Linked DNA regions of Homo sapiens. The protein of the gene in region 4 purifies or fractionates together with the protein of the main gene of each other region. This does not show direct contact. Each region holds a gene or a part of one and is shown on either strand. Other genes may lie near its edges. The genes, in order: GDPD5, SIGLECL1, HTR2C and TEX2.

Region 1 (4,962 bases), on a different chromosome or scaffold from region 4:
GGCCAGGTGGTAGGGGGCTTTGCCCAGAGCTGGTCTGCACAGGTTCCCAAGGCAAGGGGGTTAGAGTGACTTGGAGTGGGGCCAACTGCTGCTCTGTCCTGGCAGTCCTAATGCGGAGGGAGGTCAGAGCATGAATCCCTCTGATGGCTGAGACAGGTGCAAGGTGGGGGTAAAATTACTCAAGAGTGGGCTGGGAGGTGGAGCATGCACAGGGCATGAAGGGACCAGGCACTAAGTGGAAAGGACTCAGGTTTCTGTGCCCAGCCCAGGCCACTGTCTTCACTATTGTCATTCCTCTGAACTAGCCCCAGTCCCTGGCCTCTGAACTTAGACCTTTCCTGGGATCTAGGCAGAAGGATCACTGGACTCTCACCCCTGTCCCCACCAGGAGGAGGGGGTGATCAACTTGGGAACAAGAACCCAACTGCCTCAGGGACTGAACCCTGCTTGGGGGATGGAGAGAGCCAAGACTCCACAAGAAACCAACTGTGAGTTACTAGATGGGGTCAGCGCAGCAGAAGTGGACAGACAGATGGACAGGCGGATGGATGGATGAACAGAGCAGGCAGACAAGGGGAAAGCAGGAGGCGGGGGGTGGCACGGACACCCTGGCGAGGCTGGCTGCCCTATGAATCATTGAGGGCAGTGAGCAAATCTCTCTCTGTTCATCGCTGTGCCCCAGTACCATCAGTGCCTGCCGTGTCCCGGGAGCCTGACCTGTACTTGTTGAGTGAATGAATGGAAGAATAAGGCCCACAGGGAAAGAGTATCCTCCCCCGGCCTTGTCCCCCAGGGTACCTTCCTCCACCAGGCCTCTCCTGATCCCCAGGAGACAATGACACTGCCCTGGCTGTGTCTGAGCAGACCCAGCGTGTCTGTGCCAGCCACTGAATCACCATGGGGTGGCCTCCCCAGCACCCTGGGGCTCCATGTGAGAAGGCCCAACTCCTGCTGCAGACAGCATCAGCAACCAGTGTATGTGGATGTTGGTCAACTGGGCGGACACAGGAATGACTCAAGGAATGTCCCATAGCCAGGGACAGCATCTCCTCCTAGAAGCTGATTGGTGAAGCTGCCTGACCCAGGAGGGGCTAAGGCACTAGACGGAGGGAGACGTGGGTCCCTAAGCTCTAGGTCCCATCCTGGAAATTCATGTTGAAACCCAGAAGGACAGTGTCAGGCCAGGGTCTCTCGGCCAGGCATATCCAGAACAGGAAGCTCAGCCACTGTGGGGTCCTCTGAGGGGAATGAGGAAAAGGCTGTGTGTTGCGGGGAGCAAAGCAGGGATGGGTGTTAGAGATAGAATGTAAAGAAGAGAGAGAAAGAGATGGGAGAGGCAGAGAAAGGTAAACAGGAAGAGTGAACAGTGGGAGAGGCAGAGCCAGGGAGGGAGAAGATGGGAAGAGAGAGGCAGAAACTTGGTAGGGTCTGCCCTGGGCAAGTGGTGAAGGCCCCTGTAAGTGCCAGAGGCAGGGGGATGGGGGTACCCAGGCAGGGTCCCCTCCCCCAGGGAGACACTTTGGTGCAGAGAGGGGCCAGGTCAGGAAGCTGTCAAGGAAACGCTGGTCCCCACCTGCAGAAACGGCCGTGGGAACAGGGAGCAGAGGGACACACACGGCAGTGGGACGGGAGGAGCAGAAAAGAGGATTGCGGGGGTAAGGGAGGCTTCAGGCGAGCGCGCTGTCTGCGAGGTGGCCCGGGCACAGGGCTTGGTGCACGGTGGGTTTTTAGACAGAACTGGAGAAGGGATGGCAAGAGGGAGAAAGAGGAACAGAAGGAGGAGGAAGACCACACCAGAATTACCTGATCAAGTGATAGCTGTGAGATGCCAGAGTGCAGCAGAGAGAGGGGGAGGGGGAGAGAGGAGGGACATGCGCCGATCAGAGCAGGATGGGACAGAGAGAGAACATCAGTCAAGAATAAAATCCCAGCCCCTTGGTTCCTGGCTGGGTGGGGGCCCCAGGCTGGCCCTAGACCCTCCCTGGGACCAACCACACCTCCCCACTGCGAGCACACCCCAGCTATCTTGCTGAGGGCTGGTGGGAACCCATGCCCTGGCTAACAGATGAGCAGGCCAGCCCGGTGAGGAGCTGAAATTCACCTAAGCCCACATAGCCACCCAAGGCAGAGCTTGGCTCTGGGATCCCAGCTGCATGTTCATTCCAGAAGTCACCCAGCCTCTGTCTGAGGGAGGATGGGGCCACCGGAGTCCGTCCTTCTTCCCTGGTCAGGCCTGCTCCTGGCTGAGGCCCAGGGCTCAGGAGAGGGTTCACCTGGCTGGGGTGGGGGCTGGGCCTGCTGCAGGGTAGGGACAGCCACGGAAGTGGTCAGATCCTACTCACTTCTGGAGCACGAAGATGCCCACGATGAGGGTGAAGGAGACCAGGTCGGCAGTGACCCACATGAGACAGTACTCGTCCGGGGGCTGTGGACAGACGGCCCGAGGCCAACTTCCAGTCATGGCCAGTCCAGACTGAGGCTCCAGACTGAGGGTCCGTGGACCAAAGGACCCCACATGGCCACTGGGGAAGGGCAAGGGAGGACCCTGAGAGGGTCTGGGGGCTGAAGATGACATTTTGCAGGTGTAGGCTCCAGGCGCTGTGGGCCTGGGGGCCGGGGCGTGTGTGTGCACACGTGTGCACTCTCAGGGTAGGAGGGGACTGTATGGTGCTCAGGGCAGAGGGGTTGTGTGCTAGGCCTGCAGGGTCTGTGTGTCTAGGGTCCTCAAAGCAGGAGCCAGATACTGAAAGACAATGGCTTTGCCGCCCCCCGCTGCCGACTCTCATCCATCGGTCTCGACCCTTTCCCCAGGCTGCCTTCCCTTCACCCTCCTCTCCCATAGAACCATCCACAGCTTAGGTCTGATTCATTGGCACTGCATTCTCTCAGCCATAAGGATACCCTCCACCTGCCTTCTGCATGCTCAGGGTGACAGTGGAGCCACCACCTATCTGCAGGTGCCCAGTCAACCAGCTAAAATATTGCTTTATTTGCTGTTCTCTGAGCAGATTTTAATTGTTTCCTATTCTTTTTTATTTTTATTTTTTGAGACAGGATCTCACTTTGTCATCCAGGCTGGAGTGATCACAGCTCACTGCAGCTTTGACCTGCTGGGCTCAAGCAATCCTCCCACTTCAGCCTACCGAGTAGCTAGGACTACAGGCGTGTGCCACCTTGGCCAGCAAATTAATTAATTATTATTATTTTTTTTTGTAGAGACAGGGTTGCCCAGGTTAGTCTTGTACCCCTGGGCTCCAGTGATCATCCTGCCTCTGCTTCCCAAAATGCTGGGATTATAGGCGTGAGCCCCACGCCCGGTCAATGCTTCCTATTCCTGTCCTTGTTACCCTCCAAAGCAAAGAAACCCAAGCAGCTCTTTACTTCTTTAGAGCCCTTAGTGATGCTTTTCTCCCTGTGGATGAGGCCCAGGGTCCTCCCAGCACCTTAGTGCAGATCCCAGATGCCATGAAACCCTCATGCCTCAAGCCTGCACGCCCACCATGGACTCCCCACCATGCTAGAGACCTCCCAGGGACAGCTCCAAGCACAGAGCTTGCCGAGTGGTCAGGGCAGGCTATAGGCAGCTCCAGCACTGCCCCCCAGGGGCCCTCTGCCCCCCAACTCACCATGATCCAGAGGGGGGAAGGCACCTGGGACAGGGCGTGGGAGTTGTCAGAGGTGACGGATGGGACCCCCGCACACCACAGCAGGGAGAAGAGCCACGGTGCGTTGACTGTGTAGAGGTTCACACTCAGGTTCCAGGACGCGTAGTCCCTGTGGGGCAGGGGAGAGGCAGGTCAGCATGCGGACCCTGGCAGCTCCAGGCCCAGTGTCGGGGCTGGTAAAGCACGTCCTGTTCACGACCTCACAGCCATGCCCGGGGCAAGGAACATTGGCTCCAGAGGGCCAAGCTCCGGGACAAGCCCGGGTCTGCCCGACACGCTCACCCTCTTGTCTTTGAACCATGTGTGCCTGATTCCTCTGTGTGCCCATCCCTCTGCCCGACCGTGTGTGTGTGTGTGTGTGTGTGTGTTGGGGGGTGGTGGTGGCAGGACTGGGAGAGACTCAGTCCCACCCTCTCCTGGAGGAGCCCAGGGCAGGGCAGGCACCTGAGCTCCTGGCGGGACACCTGAGTGTAGCGCAGGTTCAGCCGCTGGATGTGGCCTCTCCGCAGGCTGGCGACTGCCTCCTTGGAGCCTGATGTCTGTTGGAAGCCGGGAGCCACCTTCCGCACCAGGGGCCTCTGCCTGCTAGGCAGCCACATGACCTGCAGGCAGAAGAGAGGCAGCCTCAGACTTCTCTTCTGCACGATGCGTAAGAGTACCTACTCCTCCTAGAGCACCTGTGGGGTTAAGAGACAGGACCTGGCAGGCGGTGAAAGCTTAGATGAAGTCATTAGCAGGGCAGGACTCAGTCCCAGCCAAGGCTGCAAAGTGCACTGGCAGCAACTCAGGAAACTTCGCTTCTGGCCTGCTGTCAGTACGGGAGGGAAAACCCAAACAGCCACTACTCTGCACATGGCCACTAGCACCTAGTGTGCCGTCCTAAACTGATGTCAGATTTCTCTGGTCCCAGATTATTACACCAAACGACAGGGCAACACTTCACTGAAATAACTTGACCGCCTGGACCTTTATACATTTTAAAGTGTTTTCTTGTTCCCCTCTTGTCCCATGATGACCCTGCCAGGGAAGTGAGCAGTGTGTGATCCCCATTTTACAAATGGGAAAGCTGAAGTCCGGAGTGCAACAGGGAAAGGCTATGCAGCAGCAGGGCTCTAGCCAGGCCAGGGCTCCCGGGGGCAGAGCTGCGTTGCAGGGCCTCACCTGGTGCTGGGGGAAGCCGGAGTGCAGCACGGCCTCCAGAGTCACGTTGATAAAACTGCTGCGGTAGGGGTGCTCCCGGGGCGGGTCACGCAGGTTGAGCAGCAGTGTGGCATTGCCCTTGGCCAGCTCCAGGAGC
Region 2 (8,357 bases), on a different chromosome or scaffold from region 4:
AAAACTTCTGTATATTTATATGTAATACACAATAAAAATTATTGGTTTGGGAAATAGTTATTTGGATATTTCTGCAAAAACACAGGAAACAAAAGCAAAAATTGACATGCAAGATTGCAGCAAAGTAGTTTCTGAACAGCAAAGGAAACAATCAACAGAGTGAAGAGACAACCTACAGAATGGGAGAAAATATTTGCAAAGCATCCATCTAATAAGGGGCTAATATCCAAAATACATAAGGAACTCAAACAACTCAATAGCAAAAAAATCAAATAACCCAATTAAAAAATGGGCAAGGACCTGAATAGGCATTTCATAAAAGAAGACATACCAAAATGGCCAACAAGTATATAAAAAAAATGCCTGACATCACTAATCATCAGAGAAATGCAAATTCAAACCACAGATATCACCTTATACCTATTAGATGGGTATATCAAGAAGGCAAAAGATAGCAAGTGTTGATGAGGATGTGGGGAAAAGTAAACCTTGTACACTGTTGGTGGAAATGTAAATTGGTATAACCACTATGGAAAATAGTATAGAGTATCCTTTAAAAATTAAAAATAGAACTACCATATGATTCAGGAATCCCACTTCTAGGCATGTATTTGACAGAAATGAACTCAGTATCTTGAAGAGATATCTGCACTCCTGTGTTCATTGCAGCATTATTCACCATAGCCCACACGTGGAATCAACGTAAGTGTCCATTAATAGATGAGTAAAGAAAATATTATATATGTATACACACATGCACGCACACACACACACACACCCCATTCAAATAATGTCATTTTGTTCAACATTGTCTAATCATAAGAGAAAAAAATCAATTCCCAGCCAGTACCAGTATCTGTGTGGAGTTTGCATGTTCTTATATATGGTAAAATTGGTTTCATTTTACATCATTTCACTTAAAGCAGCAGTTTCCAAGAACTGAATGATGATGTTAAGTGAGGATTTATTGTGCACACACACATACACACACAGTGGAAGTTATTCAGCCTTAAAAAAGGACATCTTGCCATTTGCAGCAACGTAAATAAACCTGAAAGACATTATGCTATGTGAAACAAGTCAGACACAGAAAGACAAGTACTGCATGATCTCACTTATATGTAGAATCTAAGAAAGTCAAACGCATGGAAGCAAAGTATAGAATGGTGGTTGCCAGGGCTGAGGGCTAAGGGAAATGAGATATTGATCAAGGGGCACAAAGTTTCAGCTAGGCAGAATGAATAAGTTCTGGAGGTTTCATGTGCACCATGGTGACTATGGTAAATAACACTGTACTGTATACTTGAAATTTTGTGACAGTAAATATTAAGTGTTCTCACCACCAAAAAAATGGTAACTGTGAAGTGCTGATTATGTTAATTCACTGGATTGTGGTAATCATTCCACAGTGCATACATACATCAAAACGTCATGTCGTACACCTTAAGTATATACAATTTTTATTTGTCAGTTATACCTCAATAAACCTGGAATTAAAAAACTGAAAATTCTATAATCTCATCTCTGATCACTGCTCTAACCATAGGTAAGCACTGGTATCAAATTATACATCATTCTAGATCTTTGTTTTACTCATTCATGTATGTATAGTTTTGAGTGTATTATATATGAATATGTAGATACATATTTACATATTATATATATAAAGCTTTTATATAAATGACAAATGATCCAGTTTTCATTTAAAGATTGTGAAATATTTCAGACATATAGAAAGATATAAATATGGTATAATGAGCATATACCCACCACCAGCTTAATATTGAAAACACTGGCTGGGCACGGTAGCTCACACCTGTAATCCTAGCACTTTAGGAAGCCCAGGTGGGAGGACGGCTTGAGCCTAGGAGTTCAAGACCAGCCTGGGCAACATAACAAGATCCCATCTCTACATAAATTAAAAAATTAGTCAGGCATGGTGGCACATGCTTGTAGTCCCAGCTACTTGGGAGGCTGAGGTGGGAAGATTGCTTGAGCCTGGGAGGTCAAGCCTGCAGTGAACTGTGAATGCTCCGTTGCACTCCATCCAGTCTGGGTGACAGAGCAAGAAACTGTCTCAAAAAAAAAAAAAAGAAAAGAAAAGAAAGAAAACACTACCCCTGGTATACTCCCTTCCCCAAACACATCTCCCACTCTCAAACATAGAGATCGCTGCTATTCTGAATTTGACATTTTATTCTGTGTACTAAGGAACTTAACCTTGCCTGAAGAGAAGTCTGGCCTTTGCCCTTGGCTTCTGGAAGACACTCCCTAGCTCTTAGAATGTCACACCTCATAGGGGTGTCTTTGTTTGCCCAGGGACCTTGCATCACACTGAATATTCTAGAAATGTGATTTAGGATGAGGGCTGGCCACACCAGATAATGTTAACAATGTGATTTAGAGTGGAAGCAATACCAGATAGTCTAACAATGTGATTTAGAATAGGGGCTTTGGATCAAATGGTATCAGCTCAACTTCAGGAGGAGCTGGATGCTAAGATCCACCATGAGGGAAGTCACCATGTTACACGATGGAGGCCCAATAAAAACACTGGACACAAGGCTTGGGTGAGCTTCTTTAGTTGACAGTACTATGCATATTGTCACACATTATCACCAGGAAAGCTAAGTTATGCTGTCCATGACTCCACAGGGAGAGGATAACTAGAAGCTTTGTGTGGGGAACTTCTGGCCTCTGCCCTGTATGTCTTCCCTTGGCTGATTTTAATCTCTATCCTTTAGTTGTAGTAAACAGTAATCACGAGTATAACAGCTTTCAGTGAATTCTGTGAGTACTTCTAGTGAATTACCAAACCTAAGGGTAGTTTTGGGGTTCCAAAACCTTGCAAATGATTTGAGAAATGAGGGTAATCAGGGATCCTTGATATCTTCAGTTGGTGTCAGAAATGAGGGGATCTTGTGGACCATTCCCTAACTTTTCAGTTGTATCAGAAATGGGATTCACTAGAACAGCCCTGACTCACTGAAACATATGGTTTGAAAAGAGGAAGGATGTGAAGTCAAGATGATAAGCCTTTGATTCCTGGGCTGTCCTGCGGTCACCTGTGCGTATAGAAATGCAGCTGTTCTGCAAACAGTTACAGGAGGTAAAAGTTACCATTGCTTTTTCAATACAATGGATCCAACCCCCAAGGAGCTGACCCACTGGATGCATAAGGAAACAAACTAAATAGGCAGTCCCTTGGCTATTTTTATCTGTAATCGTTAAAATGAAAGTGGCTGAGGCGGATCCTGATGCTGGCCCAATCTTGGGCTCTGGCCAGCCTGAGCTACAGCTGCTAGCCTCAGGGCTGTGGCTAAAGGGAAAAGTTAGGCTGAAATGACAGATGGCAAAGAAAATTAGAGTGGTTCACCAGAGAGTGAGAAAAGACGAACATTTCCAAGAGGGTGGAAATCTTTATAAACAGTTATTAAGAAATGAGATGAGTTAAGTGGACATTGAGGGAGTCTAAACAAAGGTCTCAGTGGAGCACTCTTAGAAATTAGGTGGAGCAGTGAGAACCTAGACTTGCCCTCCAGTGTTGAAGGTCCCCCATCAAGTCTGCTATATTTACCCTAGTTTGGAGGAATTTTAGAAGCCAGAAGGCAAACATGACAATGGGAAATCTGACCTCAGATCTCCTGAGGGGACGAACATGTGATCTAATCAAGATAAATGACAAAAGGGCCTGGGTTGCTTGGCCTGACCCCTAACTGAAGACCCAAAGTCATATGCATATTAGTAGTAAAATAGTCAGGGGATGGATAAGAGATATTTCTGGGACTCATGTGGGAGTCTTATACCTGCATTCCAAAAGGTTGGTGAAATTCTAATAGCATCTATGGTTAGATTGCGAAGACATAGGATTACAAAGTGGATGAGATTCAGGCGAAACTTTGGATGAAAATTGGAATGTTTGGACAGACTATGTAAATATGTTATGTGAATGTATTTACCTAAATGTATTATGAGGAAAGATATTGTGTCCAACTATGGAAGAGTTCCCCTACGTACTATTATGAAACAGAAGGCATGTAAATCTTCCCTTCAACCAATATTGATTGAATATGCTAAATAGGAACCAATAAGATTGCCCAAGCCCACACTAATTGTTAATTTGAAACAGTACAGGATATCTGGTGGACAAAACATGTTAGAAGCTTAACGTTTGCTTTATTTAGGCAGACTGGAGCTAAGGCCAGTGAGCACCACCCAGTGGTGAATGCTGGGATTTGGGGCCAGAAAATTTCCAATGGAGAGACAACTAGCTGCCTATTGGGCTTTGAGTCTGCCCCATCATTGAAGGATATAATAATCCTGACACCTGAAATCCTCATGATGTGTTTGTCATGTTGGAAAAACACTGTAGTAAGGAAGGCCATGCCCAAAAGAGTCTCGTAATAAAATGGAAATTGTTTATACAGGAACATGCTACCAGGGAAATGCAAGGAGGTCCTCGTTATATTTATGAACAGGTGGCTTTTTCCCTACTGAAGAGCTGCGAGATCCTATTATTACTTGAATGATGTCTATTAATAGCTCTTGATTGACCAACTAAGAGCGGTTTGATTTATGGATGGCAATTCCAAAGTGAATTAATAACATCCTGTTTGGAAGACTGGCACTCATACTGAGGAAGGCAAAAACAAGTCACTTCAGTGGGCTGAACTGCCTCCACATTTGGGTTTTTACCAATTCATGGGCAGTGGCCAATGGCCTGGCCATATGGTCAGGCAGATGGGCAATGGGAAACTGTACTATTAAAAGGATGCCTATATAGGGTACAGCCTTATGGAATTCACTATAGCCAGTATCTCAAAAGACCTGTTCATACCCCCTACAAATGATAAAATAAACAGAGAAACAGACCTCTTCCTCCCAAAAAGGCAATTAATATCCTACCTTTTATGCTGGACATTTCTTGGCAACTTTTAAAGGATTTTTACTACTTGTGTGTGCGTTCTTAAACACTTGATTTTGCCCGGTTTTTTTCAAATTTTAAAGAAATGCTCATACATTATTACTTATTTGTGTCTGGCTTTGTTCATTCAATATTTTATTTGTAAGAATGGTCCATGTTGTTGCATCTAGCATTAGCTCATAGGTTTTTGTTGCTGTGTAGTATCTCATTTTTTAAAATTCTCTGTTTACTGGCATTTGGATTGTTTACCTTTTTAGCTATTTTTAAATAATACCACTGTAAACATTTTTGCATTCCTTTGTGGCGTACATATGCACAAACATTTCTATAAAGTATACATCTGGGAGTGGAATTGAGGGTCATAGAGTATGTGTATCTTCTGCTTTGATAAATAACTTTGTTGCCCTGATTTATATTTCCACCAATAGTGTGTGAAAGTTGAGTACCACATTCTCACCAAGACTTGATATATTGTCTTGGATATGTACTGGTATCTGATGGTTTTAACAGGCATTTTGCTGGTTATTAATGAGATTTTAAATATTTTCATGGAAATTTTATTAAGATTTGTCTTATGATCCAGCTGTGGCCAATTTCTGTAAACGTTCTCTGTGTGCTTACAAAGAAATTGTATTCTGCAGTTATTGATTGCAGTATTCTCTATATATTTTTGGTCAAATTTGCTGATCAAGTTGTTGAAATCTTTATATATTCCAATAGTCTGTTTGTTCTGTCAGTTTCTGAGAGAACAGTGATTAAAATGTCACACTACTATTGTGGATGTCTGTTTCTCCTTTTATTTTTGTAGATTTTTTGCTTTATATATTTTTGGACTATGTTAGTAGGCAAACACAAATTTTAAATATATACTTTATTCCTGTTAATGTCAGCTTATCATTAGGAGATATGCCATTCTATCTTTGGTAATGCCTTTTGCTTAAAGTCTGCTTTATGGGATGTTAATGTAGGTATGTCTACATTACCTGGCTTTCTGGTTGGTATTTGCTTGGTGTATGTTTTCATTCTTTGGTTTTTTCTTTTTTTCTTTTTTTGAGACGGAGTCTTGCTCTGTCGCCCAGGCTGGAGTGCAGTGGCATGATCTCGGCTCACTGCAAGCTCTGCCTCCCAGGTTCATGCCATTCTCCTGCCTCGGCCTCCTGAGTAGCTGGGATTACAGGGGCCCGCCACCACACCCAGCTAATTTTTTGTATTTTTAGTAGAGACGGGGTTTCACCGTGTTAGCCAGGATGGTCTGGATCTCCTGACCTCGTGATCCGCCCGTCTCGGCCTCCCAAAGTGCTGGGATTACAGGCATGAGCCACCGCTCCCGGCCCATTTGGTTTTTTAACTGTCCTTTACACTTATGCTTTGGTTGTGTCTTTTGTAAACAGCATGGAGTTTGGCTTTGCTTCTTTTTTCCAATATGATGATCTTAGATTCATAACTGGATAATTTAAGCCATTTATATTTAGTTAAATCACTGATGTATTGGAGTTTAAATCTAACATCTAGGTACATGATTTCTACTTGTCCCAACCGTTCTATTCTCTTTTGTATCCCTTCTGTTTGTTTCTCTGTCTTTATTTTCAAACAAGCTTTTAAATCAAAGTACAATTTTATACAGAGAAGTATTAATACAGATAGTAAGTATACAACTCAAATTATCACAAAGGGAGCAGACCAGTGTAACCACCACTGAGGTCAAGAAATAGAACATTAACAACACCCCAAACACTCCACTCATGTACTACACCATTCATTACCCCCTTTATCCTTGCTATGTTCTGGATGCAAGCACGTTGTATGTGTTGCAAGTATGTTCTCCAGCCCTGCAACTTGCATTTGTCCTCCTTAATGGTATCTTTTGATGCAGAAATTAATTCTGATACAGTCCATTTTATCCATATTTCCTCATAGCTAGTGCTTTTTGGCCCTTTTAAAGAAATATTTCCTTACCTAAAACTTACCAAGATACTCTCCTATGTTGTATTAAAGAATTCCACTGACCAATGTGGTAGCTACTAACTACATATGGCTATTGAGCCCTTATATTATGGCTAGTCTGAATTGAAGTGTGCTGTAAGTGTAAAATATATACAAGATTTTGAAGAGTGTATAAAGAATGTACCAAATCTTAACAATTTTGTGTTGATTGCATGTTGAAATATTGGGTTAGGTTCAATATGAATAACCTAGTGAATAACCTAGGTTTCTTTCACTAGGTTAAATGAAACATCATTAAAATTAATTTTACCCATTTCTTCCTTTTTAATGTGGCTGCTAGAAAATTTAAAATTATACATGTAGTCCACATTTATAGGTCACATTATATTTCTTCACACAGCACTGTTCTAGAAAAAAAGTCTAAGGACTTTCCCAATGTCCCTAGAAGTTATTTTTATGTATGACATGAGGTAGGGGTCTTATTTCCTTTTGCTGTATGGCTGTCCAGTTATTCTGACACAATTTATTCAAAAGAGAGTCCTTTAACTTCTATGCAGTGCCATATTTATCCTAAACCAAGTGATCACATATGTATAGGTATTTTTCTAACCATATAGCCTGTCCCATTGGTATTTTTATTTATCCTTGTGTCAATACCATACTCTATGAATTACTATGTATGTATGTATGTATTTTATTTATTTACTTATTTATTTTGAGATAAAGTCTTACTCTGTAGCCCAAAGCTACAGTGCAGTGGCGTGATCACGGCTGACTGCAGCCTTGACCTCCCTACCTCAGGTGATCCTCCCACCTTAACCTTTCAAGTAGCTGGGACTACAGGTGCGTACCACCACACCCAGATAATTTTTGTATTTTTTGTAGAAACGGGGTTTTACCATGTTGCCCACGCTGGAATTACTATGGATTTTTAAGTCATGATATCCAGTAGGAATTGGAATTGATCATTTTTTTGAGACAGGGTCTCGTGCTGTCTCTTTTTTAATAGAAATTTACTGAGAACAAATTTATTAAATAAATGTCTACATGGGATATAAAAGGGAACATTGTGCCATGCTATACAATGTTACTTACACCATTCATTTCAAATTTTATGGCAAAACAATTATACTGTGGTAGGGAGATGTTGTTTTACACTTCTCACCAAACTAAACATTATCATATTTTTCCTGAGAGAATGTCAACACTTTGCTATCTTAAGTGATCACACCACTGCAATCCAGACTGGGTGACAGAGAGAGAGAAAGACCCTGTCTCAAAAACAAAAACAAACCGGGCATAGTGGCTTATGCCTGTAATCTCAGCTGTTTGGGAGGCCAAGGCGGGTCAGGTGTTTGAGACCAGCCTGGCCAACATGGTGAAACCTCATCTCTACTAAAACTACAAAAATTATTTGGCCATGGTGGTGAATACCTGTAATTCCAGCTACTCGGGAGGCTAAGGCAGAAGAGTCGCTTGAACATGGGAG
Region 3 (8,357 bases), on a different chromosome or scaffold from region 4:
CTGTTCTTTCTCACACACTGCTAATCCTTTCGCTAACCACACTGGAGGGATTTACTGGTAACTCTAAATTCTCAACTTGCATCTCTATACCGGGCTCATTGTCACTGGCTTTCTCGATCACCGGTTCATTGGTATGCCGATAAATGTTAACATTAAGCTCCCTCCCAGACAAAGCAGTGGCGGCAACTCTTGGAATCTGCCTGACAGGAGGCTTTTTCTCTACCTTATAATTGCAACGCAAATAGTTGGAGAATGCCCTTCGGTAAATTTTGTTGAACAGAGTATACACCAGAGGATTGATTCCTGAACAAACATAGCCAATCCAAACAAACACATTCAGAAGCTTTTCCATGAGCTTTTGGTTACAGGACTTCTCACAAAGAACAGACAGAATATTGGTAATGAAAAATGGGCACCACATGATCAGAAACACAAAGAAAACAATCCCAAGGACTTTCGAAGCTTTTCTTTCATTGTTGATAGCCTGCATGGTGCCCCTAGGACGTCTCTCCTTCTTCTTTCTTCGGCGTGCGTTCTGGTCTTGGTTAGGGTTTGCAGAGTTCTCTTCCTCGGCCGTATTCCTCTTGCAGCACTTCAGGAAATCCAGACTTAGTCCAGGCGGTTCCTCGGTGTGGCCGTGCAGTAACATCAAAGCTTGTCGGCGCAGAACGTAGATGGTCAGGCAATACGTAATCACCATAATCGTCAGCGGTATGAAGAAAGCTACGAAGGACCCAATAAGAACGAAATTTGGGTCGTTGAGCACGCACGTCGTGTTGTTCACGAACACCTTTTCTTCGTCCCTCAGTCCAATCACAGGGATAGGAACTGATACACCTAAAGGAAGAAAAAGGAAGGGGGTTGTTATAGCATCTTGAAGGACTGAACAGATGTATTCAACGGCATACATTAATTTGCATTTTACGGAAGGAAATTCAGACCTGATATTTGTTGAAAGCTATTCACGGCATAATCGATAGTCACATGAAACACTAGCAGTATGGCATCAGAAAATGATGGCGTTTTTCATGTTAGGAATGCCTTCTCCCTAAATTCTGTAGAAGGCATGGAATTACCCTTATTGATATTAACTATATTAGAGACACGGTTGTGTCAAAGGGTGGATTGTGTCAGATTTGTTGGATTTCCAGTTCCAAGAATCGTCCTGGCTCAGAGAAGGCACTCGATAAATATTTGTTGAATCAATGAATAAATTCACATCTGTACTTGATGACATTAATAAAGCCAATCATTCTTTCTTTAGCATATCATTTTCCAAATTCAATAAAAATGAGACAAATACCACCTGTAATAGTAATAATAGCCTATTAGGGATGGCTGGGCTGAGTCTAACTACTATGCAGAAATAGTCAATAAGCAGAGACTGAAAAGATTCTCTTTTTAGCAAGGGTTTTTGTTTGTTTGTTTTATTTTGAGTCTCTGGGCATGAGCAATGTTTCAAAGTCAAGAGAGGGTAAAATGTAGAGTTGGGAGATATGCAGTCCTCCAGTTTCTGTGTGGAATTTTGAGCATTTTTGTTTTAAGAATACTGAGAGGTAGTACTCTAGGGAAGCACTTCCTTCAATAAATAGGCCCATAGTTAGGAAATATCAATGAGGAGGTGGGAGCAGAAGGTGATCTTGTGCCTGAGCATAAGTAAGATATCTGGAAGCTTTCAGAAATAACCACAGTAGGTCTTCAAGAGGTCCTGCATCAATACATAGAGATAAATAGATAACAGATAGAGATTGCTGTCCTGTCTTGTGTCCACAGGAAGTCGAAGCCTGGGAAGTTCAGATTGTATTTGTGGGGTTCCATTAGAGATTATTAGGAATCCTGGGCTGGTAGGTGTCTACATCATGAACTGTGAGAGGAGACAGAAATGCATTCTCAGAGATCCTTGCTGACCTTAGAGAACACACAAGCAACTGTGACAAACCTGAAACAGAAAGTCCTTACTAGTTGCTTTAACATGCCTAGTCAGGTATAGAGTGTCTGGCTGGATGATCAAGAGGGAAAAAAAACAATGAGTCAATGCTTCTTTGCTAGAGCTTGCTGAGAATGTTGACGGATGTTTAATCTCTGGGAAGATAGAAAGAAGAGAGTGTTTTGAAAGTGATCTTTAAGTCTTCTTCCTCAGACATGGAATTTCTAAAATGACTGGCCTTTTCCTAGAGTAGGAAGCCAAGTAACAGGGTGAGGAAGCCACAACAGATATGACAAGACTTCCCTGGGTATTGGTCCATGCCTACCTATAGCTCTGAACCTAGGCACACCATTCAAGAAAGTAGGAAAGACTGAAAATGAGGAGGCACTGCAAACAGTAAGTCACCTCAAGTAGTGCATGGCCAGATCCTAAAGCAGAGACCTTTGCACCTAGATGGGGTGGAATGACAATTATTAGAAGGAGAAAAGAGAAAGTGATTTTTCACCAAGTTTGATGAAATGCCTGGGAAATTTCAACAGGAATTTGGGAATATAGAGTACAGCAGAACCACACAGAATATATTTCTTAAGAGTTAAAAAAAAAAAAAAGCAGTTAAGAAAGCTGCCAGACTGTGTTGTTTAAATCTTTATGTGAAAAATCATAAACGTAAGGTAATCTCTAGACAGCACAGATCAAACATGCCCTAAAGACATCAGTGTTGGCTTAACCTTAATAACATATTTTAGTGACGGATTAGTCTGCAGAAAGTTAATATAAGATTTTTAAAAGAAGAAAGAGTTTCTTTAAAAAAATTTACAAGAGAAAATGTTAGAGGGGGAACTTATATATTAAGAGATACTTAAAAGATCTATCAAGTAATTATAATATGTGGATCTTCTTGGGATCTTGATGAAAACAAAAACATGTTAAAAATTTTCATGACACAATTAAAAATCTGAACAATGACTGGCCTTTGGATGATATTAAATAATTATTGTTCATTAATTTTTAGGTGAGGTATTGATATTGTGGTTATATAAAAAGACAGCTCTTTTATTTTTTGATATACATACTAAAACACTTACAGATGAAGTATTATGATGTTTGGAGTTATTTCAAAATAATACGGGAGGGAGAAGTGGATGAAAGTATGGATGAAACAAGACAGTCCACAGGCTGATAAATCTTGGAGCTGGATGATGAGTTCATGGGCTTTATTTTATAATTCTACCTTTGTAATCTTTGAAAGTCAACTATGAAACAGAAAGTTTAATAATTTTTTTCAATTTAAAAAAAGAGAAAAGAAGACATAGAGGTCCTTTCTGAAACAGAGTAACATCACTGTTAAGCCTCAGATTTTAAAAAGTCTCCAAAACTGATTGGCCACTGCTAATCTTGGAAGTGATTCCTTCCAGAGCAAAAAAACATTTGGATCCCTAAATAGAAACATTCAACCACCTGTTTGATAAAACTGTAGGGAAGAAGGCCATTTTCTGACAATGTGTTGATAGGAAACTCTGTTATACCTTTCCAGGTTCCTTACAGCAAAAGCAATAAAGGATGCAGGAGTGGTGTTTCCCTCTTCAATCTCCTACCTTGCCAACCACCCAGCACCTTAGATACTACAGCGTGGGGCTAGAGACTCAATCTGGGGAATTTGCTTTCACCCTGGAGGCATCATGACTGAGGCATGTACCTTCAATTTCCCACAGGAAATGCTGCATATATTCTAAGTATTCATAGACACACTTGGACGTTTCTGGGGAAGGCCTCACACACAGGCCATGAGATTGGTGGAAGTTTGTATCACTTAGAGACCAACTCCAGAGTAATGTTAGCTCGCTTCTGTTAAATGATTTATTCACTTGTCTAAGGGATTCTTGAGCCTAAAGTAGGCCTTGTCAAGGGACAGCAAGAGAGGGTAGCAAAGTCACTGTAGATAAGCTGAAGCTGTTATTGGGTAGATGAGGCCAATTTTATCCCTGGCATCTATTTGTATTATTTTTTGTGCATTGAGGAAAGGGTGATTCTAATAGCTGCCATTTATTGAGTGTATCCTATGTGCCAGGCACTGAGCCATGTATATTACTGACATTACAGATGTAGAATGTATTATCTCAATTTGGTTAAAAACTTTATAAGACAGGTATTATTTGGCAAAGTAGCTTAACCAGTTTACCAAATCTGCACTGTCATTAATTTTCTTTTGTTTTTAGAAACCATGAATGCAATCAACAAAACAAGAAGAAATTCAAGTTATTTCAAACATATGAGGAAATTATAAAAAGCAACAACAAAAGCAGCATTAATAACAATATATGTTGTACACTGTCTTATTCAATACTTTAAAAAAAAATAAAAGGTAAGTGTCAGCAGTTCTCAAAGTGTGATTCAAGGACCCTAGGGGGGTGTCTGAGACTGTTAGAAAGCTTGCTAGGTTTTCCTTTCCTAACTGTCTTTAAAACTGCATTTTCTTCATAAATTTCAACCAAAACAACATATCACAACTGTTTGAATGTGGATACATATATGAGAATCTAGCTTTCTTTCTGTCAAACAAGATATTAAAAGAGATTTTCAAAACTGTGGGCCGGGTGCAGTGGCTCACGCCTGTAATCACAGTACTTTGGAAGGCCGAGGTGGGCAGGTCACCTGAAGTCAGGAGTTCAAGACCAGCCTGGCCAACATGGTGCAACCCAGTCTCTACTAAAAATACAAAAATTAGCCAGGGATGATGGCACATGCTTGTAATCCCAGGTACTCGGGAGGCTGAGGAAGGAGAATCGCTTGAACCCAGGAGGCAGAGGTTGCAGTGAGCCGAGATCCCGCCACTGCACTCCAGCCTGGGTGACAGAACAAAATTCCATCTAAAATAAATAAATAAATAAATAAATACAATAAATTTTCAAAACTGTAAAACAATGCCTGTTTTCTCTCTGATTTGTTTTGGAGATTATAGTTTTCAAAAATATGTTTTTATGTTAACCTTAGATGGGTTTATTATTATTATTGAAAATAAAATTATTCCTAAATATTTTAAATATTTCTCAGTTTTAATTTCTAATACCATAAATATCAATAAATATAAGCCGCATAAGCAAAAACTCTTTTGGAGTCCTCGATTATTTTGAAGAGTATAAAGGGGTCCTGACACCAAAGAGCTTGAGAACTGCTGTTCTATGTTAATGCATTAAGTTATTTAAGTGCTAGAGAGTTAAGTTCAGCAAATGTGTTAAGTTTGTCTTAGCATTTTTATTTCAACCAATAGTAATTCATGCGATATTATCATGTCTGGTAAATATAAATAACAGCAATACTGGCAACAAAACACTTTAAATTCATCATTCATTTTTATAAAAATTCCGCAAGGCACATGTTATTTGATGAAGTTAACTTCAGAAAAATTAAGTAAGTTTAGCAAATATCATGAGGCAATCTTCAATATTTTTGAAATTCCTGATTTGGCCAAAGAGGAAAACTAGATATGAACTACCATTGAAAATATCAGGTGTCACTAACAATAATTCCAATAATAATAACTACCTTTTACTGAGGGCTTATTTGTCATGCACTAAGCCACATATTTCACAATTGTTATATACTTTTATATATATTTTATTCAATCCAGACAAAAAAAAATAAATTATTAGGTGGAATCACTTAACCTTTCTGAGATTAACTTCAATAACTCTGTATCATCTTCCTTAGAATTTTAGAACCAACAAAGGTAAGTTATAATTCATGTTGTGCTGCAAACCTTAGGTACTTCTTCAACTAATAAACTGTCAAATATATTTCACATGCATTATCTAATTCAGTTGTTGCAAATCTCTGAAAAGTGGTTATTATTTATTAAGGTTACTTAAACTCTGAGAGGAAGAGTGCCTTCAGTAAACATATAAGAGTCTTACTTAGCATTTTAGAATATTAAATTCATTAACATTGTTAAGTTAAAGCTTTACTGAAAATATCATATGTTACTTCTACCACTATTTTATTCAAAATATAACGTTACCACTATTATAACTACTACTGCTATTATAACTACTACTGCTGTTACAACTACTACTACTATCATTCATTAAGTGTTTATTATGAGTGCTTACTGACTCTGATACTTTGTCTGCATTACATACTTTACATGCATTATCTCATTTCAGCCTCTTAAAAGCCCATTAGTTGATGAAGTTATTTTACTGCAAAAGAGGTAAGTTCAGAGGATGTATAAATATGTTTACATTATTTCTTAAAACCTTGAATTCAAGCAACACAGATCAGTTCTCTCCAAACCATAAGGTCATATGCCAATGATTCTAAGAGGCACATTTCTTTCAGATTTTAACATCTTTGAAATTGTGATGCTTCATACAACCCATAGTGTCTTACAATCATTGTTGGCCAGAAACTAGTCATTAGATAGTTGTCATTGTCAGTACATGTGTGAAACTGGTCTGAATAACTTCTTTTGACATCTTCTGGAAAGATCAAAACTACCAGCAGCAAAATTTGCAAAATGAGTGTCAGCTACATGACAACAATTCAGTGTAAGTGAAAAGTTATGTCATTACGAACAAAGGGAAGGAGTGTTCTGAAGAAGACATCCGCAACAGTTTCAAATGCCACAGAGAGATCTAGAATTTGAAACATTTTCTCTATCTTTGAAAATGAAGAGGTCATTGGTGATTATAGAGAGAACAATTATAGTGAAGACAGGAAACAGACTGCCAAGAGATGAATAATAAATAGTGATACAAAAGAGATTAGAGAATACGTTTCCTAGAACAGCTTGATAAACATCAAAATGAAAACATAGGGAAATTATTGTTAACCTGCAGGGTTATCTGTTTCCATGGGTTATTTTGCATGGAGAGGAAATTTTTTTTCAAGGATACCTAGAAAACCATACTATTTCAGGCTGACAGGAGTTCTTGAAGTCTGGTGATGCTGCAGTCATTGTCATTCATATGGCTCCTGGCAAACCCATGTGTGTTGACAGTATCTCAGACTATCCTCCTCTGAGTCATTTTGCTCTTTATGATATGAGATAGACATCATATCTTGATTATGTGTCATCAAAGCAAGGGACAAGAAGGCTGTTGGAGCTGGCAAGGTCACCAAGTTTGACCAGAAATCTCAGAAGTTTTAGATGAATATTATCCCTAATACCTGCCACCCCAGTTTTAATCAGTGGTGGAAGAATGGTCTCAGAACTGTTTGTTTCAATTAGCCTTTTAAGTTTAATAGTAAAACTGATTAATGATGACAATGCATTGTAAAACCTTCAGAAGAAAAAGAGAATGTTTTCTGGATCCCCTTTTTTTTGCATGTGGCAGTTTTAAGTTTTTAGTTTTTAAAATCAACACTTTTTAATGGAAACGCCCTGACCAAAAATCTGTTACAGAATTTTGAAACCCATTAAAATAAAGCTTAATGCAAGAAAAAGAAAGAAATATCCAAGGGTGTCATATCAGATACCATGGAGGACAGAAGATAAAATCATCTTTAAAAAGAATAAAGTAAAAACTACAGCAACAAACGCACATCTGTCAACCCAGAATTTTATGTTCAGTGATCATATACTTCATAAATGAAGGTAAAATTAAGACTTTTTCATGTCAACTAAAGCTGAGAGAATTTGTTGCCAACAGAACTTCATTAAAAGAATGCTAAGGGGACCAAGATGGTTGATTAGAAGCAGCTACAGTCCACGGCACTCACAGAGAGGAACAAAAGGCGTGAGTGAATACAGTATCTTCAACTGAAATATCCAGGTACTCACTTTGGGACTGATCAGGGAAACAACTCAACCGATGGAGAACAAAGAAAAGCCAGGCGGGGCAACGGCCCACCTGGGAGCAACACAGAGCCAAGGGAACCCTCACGTCCAGTCAAGGGAAGCGGTGAGTGCTTGTGCGACCGTGGGAAACCATGCTCCTCCCACGGATCTTTGCAACCCACAGATCAGGAGATCCCCTTGTGAACCTATGCCACCAGGGCCTTGGGTCCAACACAGAGCTGTGTGGAGTCACAGCAAAGCAGCTGCTCAGGCACACACAGAGACCCAGGAGCTTTACATACTCTGACCCCAGGATCCCCAACAAAGGTGTCTGCAACTCAGGCAAGGCGGGAGGTCCGTACATACCACTAGGAAGGGGGCTGAATCCGGGAAGTCAAGCAGCATTGTCCTGCGGGCCCCACTTCCATGGCATCTCACAAGATAAGACCCACTGGTTTGGAATTCCAGCCAGCCACCAGCAACAGGGTGGAGCCTGCCTGAGATAGCGCATTCCTATACAGAAACAACAGGCAAGCTGAGAGCCAAAGAATGAATGAACTCCCATTCACAAGTGCCACAAAAGGAATAAAATACTTAGGAATATAGCTAATAAGGGAAGTGAAGGACCTCTTTAAGGAGAACTACAAACCACTG
Region 4 (8,357 bases):
CCTTTGAGAAATTGCTAGAAGTCATCAGAGGTGGTGGTCATTATGAGACCAAGAAATAAAATATTTGGTCTAAGAGTGTCAGTGATAAAATAATTCACTTTTTCTTATATATCTGACATTTCCAAAAGATTTTTGGCAGAAGGAACATAACTGGAATAAGCCTTTTAAGGTGTCTCTTTGAAAGGATACCACACTCATCTGGAATTCTGAGGTGTGTTTAAAACAAGTAGGCTAATTACATTCCAGCACGTCTTCTACAAGTAAGTGTGGTGTATCTTCCTCTGAAGTTCATGCTGAGGTCATAAAATGCATGTTCATTTATAAAAATGAATATCAGGCAAACACTGGGCTACACTTATAATTCCTAAGTATTGGGTGCCGCATAATACTGCCCCCAGCGCGGAGAGCAGAGGTACCACTCGGTCAAAATCAGATTTTCACATCATCTGATCAGCTTGAACTGGTACAGCATTACCTAAAGTGTTCACTTCAAGCCACAAAATTTGTCCTGTTCTGTGACCTGCAGAGGATTAACTCAGTAACCTGAGAGCTTGCCACAGCGCTCAGCCTCTGGCATCTTCTGCCCAGGGTTGGAGCTGCCAGATGATATGGCCCAGTGGGGACACAAGGAGCAGTGGCTCAGCAGATCTCACTGGGGTCCCAGAGCTTGCAGGCAGCCTTTTGTGCTTTGTGGGTGAGGAGCAGGCTCCCTGTGCTGTGGGGACAGATTTCACACCTGGCAGCATGAGGTCAGAGAGCCTCAGGCACTGCCATCCTACTGATGGAGAACTCTGATGCTCTTCTGAGAGGGGCGTGTGATCTTTGGGGATTTACATCTCTGACTTTCCTCACCCAAGACCCGGTTTAGGCTTTCATAGGAATTGAATTTTGCTATATACATTTTAAATATAAGATTCCTGTGAGGGCTGCCTAACCACAGCACACTCTGATATGGCTCTGCAGCCAGTGGATACACATAAGCATTTCCTGGACCAGCCAGGCCTCTGGTGGAAGGAGGAAGACTCAGTTACGTGCTGTCCCATGGCCAGGGACAAGAGGCTTTTGTTTCTGCAGAGGGAGTTTCCCTTTAATGTGGAAGTCCAGCCTGTTGGCTGGAGCACTGGCTCTAATGTTTCAGAGTGGGGGTAGGGAGGAGCTGTGTGTCCTGCCAGGGAGGACACAGTCCGGGTCCTCTTACAGCCGGCTCCTGTTTCCAGTGTAGAGGTTTCAGTCCTACCCTCCCAGTGCACAGGGCTGGGGCCACTGCCGGGCCTTCAGTTCCACACTGGCATGTGTGCTGTGCCCTTGGGTGCCTTTGGCTCCTGTTGGTCAGGCGATAACTGTCCCCGTGGGCCTCTGGTGGCCCAAGGACAGCATCAGGAAAACCAAAGGACTGCAGCTGCAGGGAGATAGGCCCTGAGCCCCACTGCCTTCCCTTGTCCATGTAACTGTGTCCTTGTCAAAAATACAATGACCAGCCTCTGCTTGGTGACCATTTGGTTGTGTAATAGTGTTCAGAGACTACTCTGTCCCTTGTTCATTTTGTCCCATTTAAGTCTCTGGGCTCAGACACAGCCCTGCCAGTACTTTCTGAAGCAAAGCCACGGTCCAGGGAGGAAGCTGCTTTCTATAGGCCCGAGGCTCAGCCCAGAAGCCCCCAGGTCCCCTCCGACGGGAACTGGACCCCTCACCTCTGCGGGTAATCCAGCAACCCCACACCTCTGGAACTGAGTATCTGCCCTGGAGAGCTGAGTGAGGGACACTGCTGTCCCATGAGGCTTTCCCTTACTTCAGTCAAAGGAATGGTCTTTAGACATGTATTTTTCCGGAAAATTTCCTGGGTTCTCATGTCAGTTGCTTCCTAGAGTCTCCTGAGACTTTTTGTGTGTGTGTGTGTATGTGGTTGTTGGCTTTTTCTGTGACCCTCAGGAGATAGGGCAGGTGTGGAGTGAAATACGTAATTTCACTGGAAAGGAGTCATGAGTCAAAACTCACTTGGAGGGTTACTAAGCCAGAAAGCATCAGAGTTGCTGAATTAAGCCAGAGCCAAGGGACTTGCCTCAACATCCCATCATCAGTGAGAAGTGGCCATGTCACCAGTATAAGCTGTCACCTCACTCTTGCAACCATCCGCTCTTTCTGTTCATCCTCCCGTGTGGCTCCGCTGCACTGCTGGTTGAAATCACTGCATTTTATGTGCGCATCACACTCCCACCTCCTGTCCTTCTGACGCATGCTCAAAAGCAACCTCTTCTGGGTCCAAGGCCTCTGTGGTCCTGTCAGAGGCCTTGGTGCTGAAGAGTGTCCTGAGCATCTGCGCTGATCCAAGGATTCTTGGATTGGGCCTCTTCTGGTTTGGGTGGGTTGGAGAGAATGACGAGATGTAGTTAACAGTTACATCCCGACCCTGTTGTGGTTGAGTGTGTGTGCATGGGTGTGTGTGTTCTCTTTCTAAGCAGAGCTTGGGTGAGGGCAGGCAGTGGTGGTGACTCTCTCTCTGTCCAGTTGCAGGCCCCGGGCATTCTGTCTGGCGGACAGCGATGAGGAATCCTCCAGCGCTGGCTCCTCCGAGGAAGACGATGCCCCAGAGCCCAGCGGGGGAGACAAACAGCTCCTCCCAGGGGCTGAAGGGTGAGTGGATCAGTGCTTCTGTGCCTCTGAGTCTCCAGGGATCAGGACAGCAAGTTGGGAGTGAACCTTGTTTCCCTTCCTTCCTCTGTGATCTTCCTTCCTCTTTAATGTTGAGTAGATGGTTTTTTTATTAATATCCCAGGTCAGTGGTCTGTTTAAATTCCAGGCAACCAAGCAAAAAGACCCATATAGCTTTCCTTACTAAAATGGCTTTCTGCTGCTGTTTGATTAAATAATAGAGAAGTTGAAGGGTGTGCTGATGATGAAAAGCATCTCCCTGAGCCTTCAGAAGGAACCGAGCATACACCCCCTCCCCCCGGAGAGCCTCCCTCCCCTCAGCTTCAGCTGGAGTGCATTTGCTTCTGTTGAGCTGCAAGTTCCTGCAAAGCAGAAACATTCAGATGATTTTCTTTGGCGAGTTTTGAAAGCGCTGATGACTGAGCTGATCTTTTGGATCATGAACTTCATTTGGAGGGGGTTACTCTTTCCCTGTTAACTTGGGCTGTGAAATGATCAAAGTGCTTAAATAGCCTATCCACAATGATCTTTTAATTACATAAAGTGAATTGAAGAAACTAAAAGAAGCCAAATAATTCAGAAACTTTTATAAGAAAAAACCAACCTATTCACTTTTGAAATCCTACAGGAGATGAGAATTCAGATGTTTGAGGAGTTGGTGCCAAAGTTTGTGTGTATTATTTACAGTCTAGCTGCTTGACCCTCTTAAGAATGATTGCTTTTCCCTGAACACATACTTTTCCTCATGTTCTGGAACTGTGGGGGATTTTAAAAAGCAAATATCCTTTCTTCTGAGTCTCATGGTACATGTGACCTGATACAACAGCTTATTTTCTTGGCCTGTGAGCACGTCAACTTGGTGTAGCATTTTGTTTGTTTGTTTGTTTTCTTGAGACAGCATCTTGCTCTGTCACCCAGGCCTGGAGTGCAGTGGCACGATCATAGCTCAATGCAGCCTCAACCTCCTGGGCTCAAGTGATCCTCCCATTTTAGCCTCCCGAGTAGCTGGGACTACAGATGCACACCACCACTCCTGGCTAATTTTCTGTTTGTTTTTTGTAGAGATGGGGGTCTCACTGTGTTGCCCAGGCTACATTTTTCTTTAAGAAGTTCCAAGCCCTTTGAAAAGTAATTGCCACTCAAGGTAGCCATGTGACACCACCTAAAGACAGTCCATTAATTACTGATTTATGTCCTATTGATGCAGCATGATTTGTTACTTGCTGCATGGAGATTATGAGATTGATATGTCATTGGATTTCTGTCTGGTATTGGAGTAGTATAAAGGAGGACAGGTGAGAAACCTCTGCATGAGGACTTTGTCCAGCTCTCCATTGTCAAGGTTTGGACTGTTTCAGACATTTACACCTTCTCTGAAGTAGTAGTTCTCAACTGGGGGTGATTTGGCCCCCCAGAGGACATTTGCCGATGTCTGGCAACATTTTTTATTGTCATAACTAGGGGGAGTGCTATTGGCATCTGGTAGGTAGAGACCAGGGATGCTGCTGAACACCCTGCAATGCACAGGATGCCCCCCGCCCCAACACAGAATCACCACATCCAAAACATCGAGTGGTGCTCTAAAGTAAGGGGAACGAAGAGCCACAGGTTTTTGTCTGTGAAAAGAGCAAAGTTTGTGCTAACCGCCCTTTGTGTTCCACATTTGAAGGTACGTTGGAGGTCATCGAACAAGTAAGATTATGAGGTTTGTTGATAAAATTACCAAGTCAAAATATTTCCAAAAAGCAACAGAGACAGAGTTTATTAAAAAGAAGATCGAAGAAGTCTCCAACACACCCCTGCTGCTCACTGTTGAAGTACAAGAATGTAGAGGAACCTTGGCGGTCAACATTCCACCACCCCCGACTGACCGAGTATGGTGCGTAGAGGGCCCTCAGGGACAATAAGTGATTCCTCCTATTGCATGGCCACAGAAATCCCAGCCTGCTTAACCTTGAGGTTATGGAAAGTACCTTCTCCCGGGCAGAAGCACTTCCAAACAATTTTCATGGGACCTTAATATTAGTTGCAAATCTGATGGTACTTTCTTCTGTGAGTGGTGAATTCACATTCAAGAATTCATGTTCACATGGTAGGAAAAGTTAAAGTCAATACATGAAGTTTATGAGATAAGCTGTTTCTATTATTGGTCTTCCTCCTCTGTAAAGCCAACTGTTCTGCCAGTAATAACAGCTGTCATTTGTAGATAGCGCCTTTATTCTCTGCCTGGCCCTGGTTGTAATTGCATTACCTGATTAGTCCTCATAGCATCCTGTTGAGGTAGATGCCATTGTTATCCCTACTTTAAAGATGGGGATCACACATCCAACAGAGTCTGGGAAGTTAGGGAGACTTCCCTGAGTTAGGCCTCAATGCTGAGGAGTCAGGAGCATGTGCATTTGGTGTCTGAGGACTGGATTCTCAGCCCCAGCTGCATGTTAAAATCACCTGGGGACTTGCTAAAAATATAGCTATGCCTGGCCCATCCCCCCGGATTTCAGGGGTCGGGGGTGATGAAGCCAGGGTTGAGAGTCACTGAAATAAATTACTGATGAGTTCAGCATCACTGCCTGTGAATCTCAATTTAAAATTGACATGCTAAGTCCTATAAAAATGGGCATAAGTGTAAATAGTGATTGCATAAGAGATCTCATTGTACCATAAACTACACTCATAACAAAAATATAGCTCTGTTCTATCATAGAGTAAAACCAACATGCTAGTACATACCATCGGTATTCAGAAGGATTTGTAGGAATGATCAGAAGAGGGGTTTTGAATTGACTAACCATTTAACGATAATGCTGGTATTTCCCAATAAAACTTTAAAATGCCTTTTTATACTTTTTTAAAGTAATATTTTCATTGTTAAAAAAAAGAGAAAGATTGGGAAAAGGTGAAAAATAGATAAATAAATAAAAACCCATAATCTCACCATCCAGAAATAACCACTGTTAATATATTGTATGGTCTTTCAAACCTTAAAAAAATTTTAATAGTTAAAATTGATACATTTCTTCTCCTTACTGCCAATTCTTTAGATTTATCAGTTTTAAATGCCTCTGCTCAGGGGGAGATAAAATAAAAGGGCTCTAGGATAGTGCTACCCAAGGCATGCTCAAATGCTGAACTATGTGTTATTGATCCATAAAGATAAGTATAGAGTGTTTAGAAATATTTATGGCAACTTGACATTTTTACTGTATTTCCAAAAGCACTGGTCCAGGACAGATTTAAGGTTTTAGATAGTTGATAGCATACAGGGTCTTGTCTGGATACTTTGCCAACAGTTCTGATTGCCAGTCTGCTCCCTCGGGAAGTCATACAAAGCGTATTGTTGGGGTGTAGGATGAAAAAACAGGTTTCAAACCTTATTGATCGACATATGCACAGGAGAATGTAAGGGGAGTTCACCCTACTTCTGTCAATAGTCCTCTCTTGGGGATGACATTCAGAGAGAGGCAGTGTGTCTTTCACTCTCTGCTTTATCTGCTTGTATGTATGTTTTGTTTTTGTAATGTACATATACTACTTTTATAAAAATTGAAAGAAAAAAGGTTATTGCCATTTTAGAAAAAAACAGAAACCAATGCCCAGGTCATGGACTTTTCCAGTGGTGCTTCCTGGCTCTCTCAGTTTGTCAGAACTGTTCTAAATCCGCCACAGCCCTAACACCATCCAGGGAACACAGGGGGTTCACAATTCATACTTTGTGTGTGGAATATTTTTAGAGGGCATTTTCAGAAGAAAATAACATTTTAAGTAGTGATAAAGCCCCATGTAAATGAGAACTGTTTGCTGTCAGTGCCTGTCTCATTCCTTGCTTTGCTTCTAAATGTGGTTATTACTTGTCTTCAAAAAGGTATGGTTTCCGAAAGCCACCACATGTGGAGCTGAAAGCTCGGCCAAAACTTGGAGAGAGAGAAGTGACTTTAGTTCATGTGACAGACTGGATAGAGAAGAAACTGGAGCAAGAGTTTCAGGTAAACCTCTAGTGTTATCTAGTATTTCACACCAAGTATAGAAGCTCTGGGTTTAGCCGAGGTTCTGAACTTCAGCTGGGTCAGGATCCTCTTTTGAAAATCTGATGGTGACCTTCATCCCGGAAGAGTATTACATTTGATCAAATATGGGAATAAAACTTCAGGTACAGTATCAAAGCCCTGAAACTTATCCACAGAACATTACTAAGTCATCTTCAGAGGAAACCCAAAAGATTTGGGTCAGAGCAAAATGATGATGTCTTTTCCCAGCAAGCCTGCCAGGACTGTCAGGCTTTGTTTTCTCTTATGCAAGGCCTGGCCTTGCCCAACTCTTAGCACCCGGCCTGTGGGCAGGGAGGCTGCCCCCTGTTCTTGTGTGCTGTTCACCTTGCTCAGTTTGTTCAGTTCAACAAACATTCCTGGAAACCCTTCTGTGTGCCAGGTACCACCTGCCCTGGGAGTCCAAAGATGAATCTGGCCTCTCCCTCCCCTGGGTAGCTTCTAGTGTAGTCTGGGAGTTCATTAAGCCAGAGCTTACTCTCTCAGCTTTTCTTTCTGCATTTGGCCACCAAAGGTAATAGCAGTATAGCTGAGGCCCTAGGATGAGCTATTTCCATCAAACTTTTATCAGATATTTGAAGCACAGTTGTCTGTCGGGGTTTTATGGATTAGCAAACTATTTACTTTTAATGAAATTCACCTTTTGAAGAAGACCTACATTCTTTTTGCAGTGGTATATTTTGAGTTACTGCCTTAAAAAAATCCTCTTATTTAAAAACTAGAGATTAAACATAACTGATAACCAATTTCTGAAAAAGCTTAATGTCATCACCAAATAGAAAAGTACTTTGAACCTACTGAGGGGAAAGAACATCATGCCTTTTATTTTTCCCTTTTTCTTTCTTTTTTTTTTTTTTTTTTTTAAGACAGAGTCTTGCTGTGTCGCCCAGGCTGGAGTGCAATGGCGCCATCTCGGCTCACTGCAAACTCCGTCCCCCAGGTTCACACCATTCTCATGCCTCAGCCTCCCGAGTAGCTGGGACTACAGGCACCCGCCACCACACCCAGCTAATTTTTTGTATTTTTAGTAGAGATGGGGGTTTCACTGTATTAGCCAGGATGGTCTCGATCTCCTAACCTCGTGATCTGCCCACCTCGGCCTCCCAAAGTGCTGGGATTACAGGTGTGAGCTACCATGCCTGGCCTAATTTTTTGGTATTTTTAGTTGAGACAGGGTTTCACCATGTTGGCCAGGCTGGTCTTGAACTCTGGACCTCAGATGATCTGCCTGCCTTGGCCTCCCAAAGTACTGGGATTACAGGCGTGAACCATCGCACCTGGCCATTAGCTTACATTTTATCGCTAGGATTTATTAATAAAAGGATAATTCACATGGAATATGTGTTCTAGACATAGTAACTGGGAACTACTGTGAACAGCTTAAGCCAATTCTCTTAAATTGTTGGATATATATCAGTGCATATGGGCAACCTTATTATATGTATACAAAATCAAAGGCCACTTCTGCCTCCGAGCTGATATATTAGAGGATTCTCGTATCCATGCGCTGGTATGATTCCTCAACTCTTTCTAAAGTATGTATGGTGGGAGAATTAGTTTGGAATGCATAGCAAGTTTTTATATGTACTTTTAAAAATCAGTCTAAGCCCTAAAATTATCAGAACAAAGGAGGGTGACAGCCTGGCAAGGCATTCTTCCACATAG

What was found.
Region 1: the proteins of TEX2 (region 4) and GDPD5 purify together in Homo sapiens (co-immunoprecipitation; one large-scale study listed by IntAct). This does not show direct contact.
Region 2: the proteins of TEX2 (region 4) and SIGLECL1 purify together in Homo sapiens (co-immunoprecipitation; one large-scale study listed by IntAct). This does not show direct contact.
Region 3: the proteins of TEX2 (region 4) and HTR2C purify together in Homo sapiens (co-immunoprecipitation; one large-scale study listed by IntAct). This does not show direct contact.

Annotation. Positions count from the first base shown.
Region 1 is NC_000011.10:75,437,537-75,442,498, forward strand, and holds part of GDPD5 (glycerophosphodiester phosphodiesterase domain-containing protein 5), read right to left. Parts: coding exon 4,827-4,962; intron 4,268-4,826; coding exon 4,110-4,267; intron 3,775-4,109; coding exon 3,627-3,774; intron 2,426-3,626; coding exon 2,343-2,425; intron 1-2,342. UniProt on the Homo sapiens protein: Glycerophosphodiester phosphodiesterase that promotes neurite formation and drives spinal motor neuron differentiation.
Region 2 is NC_000019.10:51,255,331-51,263,687, forward strand, and holds part of SIGLECL1 (SIGLEC family-like protein 1), read left to right. Parts: intron 1-598; exon of another isoform or gene 599-702; intron 703-2,411; exon of another isoform or gene 2,412-2,570; intron 2,571-8,357.
Region 3 is NC_000023.11:114,899,069-114,907,425, reverse strand, and holds part of HTR2C (5-hydroxytryptamine receptor 2C isoform a precursor), read right to left. Parts: intron 838-8,357; coding exon 11-837; 3' UTR 1-10. UniProt on the Homo sapiens protein: G-protein coupled receptor for 5-hydroxytryptamine (serotonin).
Region 4 is NC_000017.11:64,149,116-64,157,472, reverse strand, and holds part of TEX2 (testis-expressed protein 2), read left to right. Parts: intron 1-2,505; coding exon 2,506-2,631; intron 2,632-4,318; coding exon 4,319-4,528; intron 4,529-6,511; coding exon 6,512-6,632; intron 6,633-8,357. UniProt on the Homo sapiens protein: During endoplasmic reticulum (ER) stress or when cellular ceramide levels increase, may induce contacts between the ER and medial-Golgi complex to facilitate non-vesicular transport of ceramides from the ER to the Golgi complex where they are converted to complex sphingolipids, preventing toxic ceramide accumulation.